Linked DNA regions of Homo sapiens. The protein of the gene in region 1 interacts with the protein of each later gene in a pairwise test. Each region holds a gene or a part of one and is shown on either strand. Other genes may lie near its edges.

Region 1 (3,828 bases):
TAATGATTGCCATTCTAACTGGTGTGAGATGATATCTCATTGTGGTTTTGATTTGCATTTCTCTGATGGCCAGTGATGGTGAGCATTTTTTCATGTGTTTTTTGGCTGCATAAATGTCTTCTTTTGAGAAGTGTCTGTTCATGATTTTTTTTTTAGACAAAGTATTAGATCAGATATTTTTGGGGAAAAATGCTTTGTGATTGCTTGTTTTGAATGGTGAGCATTGTATTTTGTTTTAAGTTGTTTTCTGGTTGTTATTACAGCTATGAAGTCTTACACTCCATATTTCATTCTCCTGTGGAGTGCTGTTGGGATAGCGAAGGCTGCCAAAATCATCATCGTGCCGCCAATTATGTTTGAAAGCCATATGTACATTTTCAAGACGCTAGCCTCAGCCTTGCACGAGAGAGGCCACCATACAGTGTTCCTCCTCTCTGAAGGCAGAGACATCGCCCCATCTAATCATTACAGCCTCCAGCGCTACCCAGGGATCTTTAACAGTACCACCTCAGATGCTTTCCTACAGTCCAAGATGCGGAATATTTTCTCTGGGAGATTGACAGCAATCGAACTGTTTGACATACTGGATCACTATACTAAGAACTGTGACCTGATGGTTGGCAACCATGCCCTGATCCAGGGTCTGAAGAAAGAAAAATTTGACCTGCTGCTGGTGGACCCTAATGATATGTGTGGATTTGTGATAGCTCATCTTTTAGGGGTTAAATATGCTGTATTTTCAACTGGCCTTTGGTATCCTGCTGAAGTGGGTGCTCCTGCTCCATTAGCATACGTCCCAGAGTTTAACTCACTCCTCACAGACCGCATGAACTTGCTGCAAAGGATGAAAAATACCGGTGTTTACCTCATTTCCAGATTAGGGGTCAGCTTTCTGGTTCTTCCCAAATATGAAAGGATAATGCAGAAGTACAACCTGCTGCCAGAGAAGTCCATGTATGATTTGGTTCATGGGTCCAGCCTGTGGATGCTGTGTACTGACGTAGCACTGGAATTCCCAAGACCCACTCTGCCTAATGTTGTTTATGTAGGAGGAATCCTAACCAAACCAGCCAGCCCACTACCAGAAGTAAGGTTTGCCGAATTCCTTGGTAATTCTTTTTTAATGTAAAAGTCAATTTTGATTTTTGGAAGAGATATGATTTGTTATTTATATATATTGTATATATACAGTACACTAAAAGGTGATTAGGACATGGGGCCTCCAAAGTCCCTTTATGTGGGTCCACCACTTCCCTGGGAAACATTCCTGCTTTGAATGAGCATTTCTGTAATACTGAAAAGACCACTATGCCATATGGTCAATAGACTGCCTGGGAAGTAGTTTTCTGATTAAGTAATAGTTATAGTATGTGAGGAGAATATAGTTAAATGGTTAATTTTAATGAGTATAAGTGATTTTATCTTTAATTACACACAGAATCCCCTCTGTTCTGCCCCAAATAGCACAATTAACAGGTATATATGTTTAGCTTCAGGTCAGTGAACAGAGGTTCTTCTCTGGGAGGTTATTACCACTAGTTTATGTCCAATAATGAAAGTGAGGTGGTAACTTCCATCAAAGTAGGGAGTTGGTTAATTTAAGCTAGTAAGTAAATGTAATGGTTTTAAGGAAAGCATGCTCTATTGCAATTTCATTTCAATGATGGAATCAATGGCACTTTAAGAAACTCTGTTCTCTATGTGAAACTTAAATTCTTTTTATTGATTGAGCCAACAGTAAATCCCTTGGTATTCTGTTCACCATCCTTGTTTTTTATTAGGTATCCCACATTAGCAGAAGCCATACACATACCTATTGTTGTAGTGAGTTTTCTAACCTCAGATTGAATCTCTCAATTTAACCTCAACATCAGATCCCATTTACTAGGAAGTGTAGGGCTTGTTGCAGGACTTTATTCAAGTTACTTTTAATCCTACCTCTGGAAATAGCCACTCAAAACAATTTTGCTAAATTGTTGATTTCTAGTTCTGGTACTACATATTAAAAATTCTATCAGGGCCTTGATGAAGAGTAAATCCAGATTTTCTCGTATAGATGAGGACAATCACATGGCTGAATTTTGTCGTGAGGCAATAAGGTGATTAGAAATATACGACCTGTAGGCTTTTCTAATATGGCCATTAGAGTTATAATTAATAAATAATATATCGATATATTTCATATAACATGGAAACAGAAATGGCCTGTACACCCACAGCATTTCAAATATATACAGCCACTGGAGGCCATGAGGGCACACTTGTTCTCTCTGACGTCAACTGTAAAGGATAGGGATTAATCTCAGCTTATCTTAGCCATTCTTGAATTTATCCAAGCTCATTTTGAATCCTCAGATCTTCTCTGGCAGAGTCACCTTCCTAAAGGTAGCTAAAATCAGATTTTAGAAGTAGCTTCTAAAAGATTTGGTAATCAAGGTGTGTCTTTACCTTAACTGAGTCATTTAAAATGTTACACAAATCATCCTTGTTCTCTCTAGGTCATCATCTTTTCCGAGCTAGAACACTCCCCTTCTGCCAGCTCCCTTTGGTTTTCATCTGGGTGATGTCTCTCTTCTTCAGTCACTTGATTGAAGAAGAAGTATATGATGAAAAGGAGCTGGACGCGGTGTCCCATGCCTGTAATCCCAGCACTTTGGGAGGCCAAGGCAGGAGGATCACTTGAGTCCAGGAGTTCGAGACCAGCCTGGACAACATAGTGAAACCTTGTCTCTACAAAAAATAAAAATTAGCTGGGTATGGTGATGCATGTCTATAGTCCCAGCTACTCAGGAGGCTGAGGTGGGAGGATCACTTGAGTTCAGGAGGTCGAGGCCGCAGTGAGCTGAGATCACACCACTACACTCCAGCCTAGGTGTCAGAGTGAGACCCTGTCTAAAAAAAAAAAAAAAAAAAAAAAAAGGAATGTCCTGTCCTGATTGCCTTTTCTTTCCTTCCAGTTCCTGCTGTATATTTGTCTTGAGTTGCAGCAACTTGAATGACACAGTATAAGTGTAGGAAAATATTTTATGTTTTATTTTCAATACTCTACCTTTCAAAAAGATGCATAGCATGTGATAATTTTTTTTCTACCATCCAAGCATTTTTTTCTGTCATGGATTCCTCTGCACACAGATGTCCTTACTAGTGTCACTATTTTGTTTTACATGAAAAACATCTTTTTAGTGGTTTTTGGTGCTCGACATAAGGTATTACTCAAAATATCCTTTAATTTGCCATAATTTCTCATTTGACACTGGCTTGACTTTCTTTGTGGAGTTCTTTTTCCTCTGGGCTATTTGTAGTGGTTCTTTTGAAATGCGTTTTTTGTTTACAAAGTTTGCTTTGTGCCAGTTAGTTTGGTTGCATGCACAGACATGGCATGTGTGCATGTGTTATATATAGTATGTGGACATAGATAAGTATATTATTATTATTGGAAGTCTATTAGATTATCATTGTGAAGGGCTGTTTTCATTTCAGAATGTTATTTATAGTTTTTGAGCAGGGAGTATTTTGAAGAATGATGTGCAGTACTCTTTCAGGTATTCCTTATTCTGGTGTGGTTTTATATGCTTATGAACACATGTTCCCACTGAGATTTTTCTAGTAGATTTATTTGAGATAATAAACTGTACCTTTTCATTCTAAAAGTTAATGAGTTTCTCAAATGCCTGTATTATTTACAGGGCATTGTTGTGACAGTAACACAGGAAGGCCCAGAAAGTAGCTGCGTAGAACACATGATTCACATATAGCAGCTTAATTGTTAATTGCCCTGGTATCTTACACTGGGCATAGATTAGGTTTTCCAGATGTCTGTAAATGATT
Region 2 (3,828 bases), on another chromosome or scaffold:
AATATGTAATTTGAGTTGGAATGCTGAACAGTCTATGTGTATGTAGAAAACAGAAAATAACTTGTCCAATCCAAGGGAGAATTTACTTTATAGCATGAGAGCACCAAAAAGTAAACAGAAAATTTTGGATTTTTATGGGAAAAAATAGAGATATCAAAAGTTGTTATTATTATTATTATTATTCGAGACAGGGTCTTTCTCTGTTGCTCAGGCTGGAGTGCAGTGGTGTGATCATGGCTCACTGCAGCCTTCACCTCCCAGACTCAAGCAATCCTCCCAACTCAGTCTCCTGAGTAGTTGGGACTACAGGTCCCAACTACTACATGGTGTGCGCCACCATGCTCTGGCAATTTTTTATTTTTTGTAGAGATGGGGGTCTCAGTTTGTTGCCTCAGCTGGTCTCAAACTCCTGGCCTCAAGTGATCCTCCCAAAGTGCTGGGATTACAGGTCTGAGCCACCATACCTGGGCTCCAAAGTTAATTTTTAAAAGTATGTCATCTACTATTTTTTTAAAAAGCTTTATTGAAGTATAATTGATATACAAAAAGCATGCATATAAAAATATATTTTAGTGGATTTGGACAGGCTGTCATAGTTTTGGTATTTTTTCAAACAGTTAAAGAAGGAATTTCTAGAATTTCCCATTATTGCACTTAAAGGTAAGGTGACAGGAAAACATTAGATCAAAATGGAATAGATCTTGTTTGCTTTTTTTAAAAAAAATTTATGAGGGAAACAGATTTTGATCTCAAATTAAAACTTTAAATAAATTTTCAAATAATTAGTTGGCCTTAAAAAGTAGGTAGCCCAGTATAGAGCAGACACTGTAGGTAACAGCTAAGAGAACAGGCAATGAAATTAGAATTCTTATGTTTACATCTCGACTGTATCAGTTACAGCTTTTGGGTAAACTACTTATCTCATTATTACTTGGTATCCCAATCTATAAAATAAGGATAAAACAGAAACTATCTCACAGGGTTGTTGTGAGGATTAAATAAAAAAAATTTAAAGAAAGACTGAACGTTGTGTTTGGCACATTTATGTACTCAATAAATATTAGCTTTATTAAAAACGTTAGTTAAGAGCCAAGAAAACACCTCTTCATAATTATTCTAAACAAGCCACAGGTACGGTACACTGTGTTTCTTTTCCCTTAATGTGCATTTGAATCACCTGAGGATTTTGCTAAAATGCAGATTCTTATGCAATCAATGGGTCTGGACAGGGTCTGAGATTCTGCAGTTCCAACAAACTCTCAGGTGATACTCATGATGCTAATATGGGAACTGGGATACGTGAGATAATTTTAGATGGTTTCCTCCTAATTTGTAATACAATGTGTCTCAACAGGGGGAATGAGGACAGGGGGAGAAAAGAAGGTGTGGATGAAATGTACAGATTTCATATGCCCCCTGGGTGATTCCAGTATTCTTGTCTCACCTGCCTCTGTCATCTTAAGAACCACCGATTTGATATTTCAACCTTTTATTCTTTTTAATTTTTTCTTTCCTTACTCTTTTCTCCACTTTACCCTTGTCATTGCTGCTGTAGACTGAAAAACTGTATTCATGCTTAGCTCTTCAATTAGCAAGACAAAAGCATCAAATTTGTCATTGTGTGTAATAGGACAGTGTATCTAAATGAGATTAGAAAAATTATTTATTTCTTAACATTTCTTTTTTAAAATATAAAGGTCTGAAAATGTATTTAACATTTTCTGTAGTTTTAGCCAAAAACAAACAAATAAGCAACAAACAGGCAAGCAAGTGACTCCGTGGAACATTTAGTAAAAGAAAACAAGGATGCGTTAGGTGCCATCCATACTGTCAAAGGAGTTATAATCTCACGAGGAGGGGAAAGGAGCAGTGGTTATTACAGAAGTGGCCAGAACCAAACAGTGTGACCACTTTAGACACACCATCTGGTCTGAAAGGCAGGACAGAAGGAGGGGCCATTTTTAAATGGCTTCCCACCCTACTAGCATTAGGCTATTAGAGACCCATGCCAAAATATGTGCTTAGCTTGACTACTATCTCTCTACGGCAAAGACCATTTTTATACTTTGGCTTGTATCCTCAGGGCCTAATATCACTCAGATCCACAGTATTTCCTCTGTAAGTACCTGCAGCTGTTGTTGATATATTTTATAGACATAATTCTTCATTTTCCAAAGTAGATAAGAGGAGCTTTGACTAATATAGAATCAGAAAATATCTAAATAAACTTAGCAAATTAGCAACAACAAATTCTCTTTAAAAGTACAAAATCAGGCCAGGTGAGGTGGCTCATGTCTGTAATCCCAGCACTTTGGGAGGCCGAGGCAGGGAGATCACTTGAGGTCAGAAGTTTGAGACCAGCCTGGCCAACATGGCGAACCTCTTCTCTACTAAAAATACAAAAATTAGCTGGGCGTGGCGGCATGCACCTGTAATCCCAGCTACTAAGGAGGCTGAGGCAGGAAAATCATTTGAACCTGGGAGGCAGAGGTTGCAGTGAGCCGAGATCATGCCACTGCACGCCAGCCTGGGCAACAGAGCAAGACTCTGTCTCAAAAAAAAAAAAAAAAAAGGTACACAATCATATGTGTATTTCTCAATATTCTTATTTTGTACTTAAGCATACAGAGTACTTAAATCCATTGAACTAAATAAAATTTCTACATTATTTGGTGAAGATGAAGGCATCTATGTGTGTATAAGTGGACAAGAAATCACACAAAAGTTGACTTAAACTGAAAGATTATTAATTCTATGATTTTAAGTTTTAAGGAAATCTAGAATTGGGACTTGAAATAGGAAGGCACATTGTAATAATAGGAAACAAGGCACACTCATTTTTTACCCATTTTCCAAACTTTTAAATGTTAAAAAAATTACATGTGAGATTAACAACACAATAAAAACATTCTTGGTAATAGGAAGGAGACTGATAATCACTGAGAGATTCTAGACATTTGTTTCTACTTAAGACAGTTAGAGAATGCACCTATCGAAGAAACAAACACAAACAAAACAAAAACAAATTCAAACCCTTCTAAATTAACTATAAGAATAATGTAATCATACAGCATTTATACTACATAATGAATTTTTTGTTACTTAAATATTTTGGAAGACAATTTTGATTTTCATATGCAAGAAAGTTTTTCCTCATCTGAGCATCTGCTTTGATAAGAAGAAAAATCCCATAGCAAATATTTTAATGTTAATACAACCACAGCTAGCAGCAATAGTCACTAGTCCTTTTATGACTGTTCCAAACATATACTCTGTTTTCTATTTCCAGTTGTCTAATTTGTCACTAACGTAATAACTAGGGAAACATCTGGCAATTTATAGTTCTTTAAATTATAAGATTTTTTTTCTGTGATTGAAATATTGCATTTTAGAGCTTTAATAGGATAATGGTAGTCACTTGCCAATTTAGTTGAATATTACCTTAAGTCCCTATAGATATTCCTTGATTTAAGATGGCTTTATATATTAAGCTATTAAAAAGTTGATTTTTAGAAGCTAAAGTTCATATTATGAATAAAACAAAATGTAAAGTGATAGCTAAATTTAGGATACAAATCGATCAAATTTACTGTTGCTTATCAGAGATTGAGTATACTGCTTTAACAAGCAGCTACAGTGAAAAGAAACACAAACCACATAATCCAATGATCTTAGGCAATTTTGAAAAAGAAACATTAGGAGAATTTTGAAGGAAACTAATAGCATTTTCCAATCATCACGTGTTGGAAAGCTGATTTGTCAGTTTGCTAGATAACATGGGAGAAAAGTGTTCCTAAGCTGGGCTTGGACACTTGGTCACATTGTGTT

The links.
Region 2: the proteins of UGT8 (region 1) and AGTR1 interact in a two-hybrid assay, tested with the Homo sapiens proteins (one large-scale study listed by BioGRID and IntAct).

The regions. Positions count from the first base shown.
Region 1 is NC_000004.12:114,622,616-114,626,443, forward strand, and holds part of UGT8 (2-hydroxyacylsphingosine 1-beta-galactosyltransferase precursor), read left to right. Parts: exon of another isoform or gene 1-263; 5' UTR 264-265; coding exon 266-1,087; intron 1,088-3,828. UniProt on the Homo sapiens protein: Catalyzes the transfer of galactose to ceramide, a key enzymatic step in the biosynthesis of galactocerebrosides, which are abundant sphingolipids of the myelin membrane of the central nervous system and peripheral nervous system.
Region 2 is NC_000003.12:148,700,722-148,704,549, reverse strand, and holds part of AGTR1 (type-1 angiotensin II receptor), read right to left. Parts: intron 1-3,828. UniProt on the Homo sapiens protein: Receptor for angiotensin II, a vasoconstricting peptide, which acts as a key regulator of blood pressure and sodium retention by the kidney.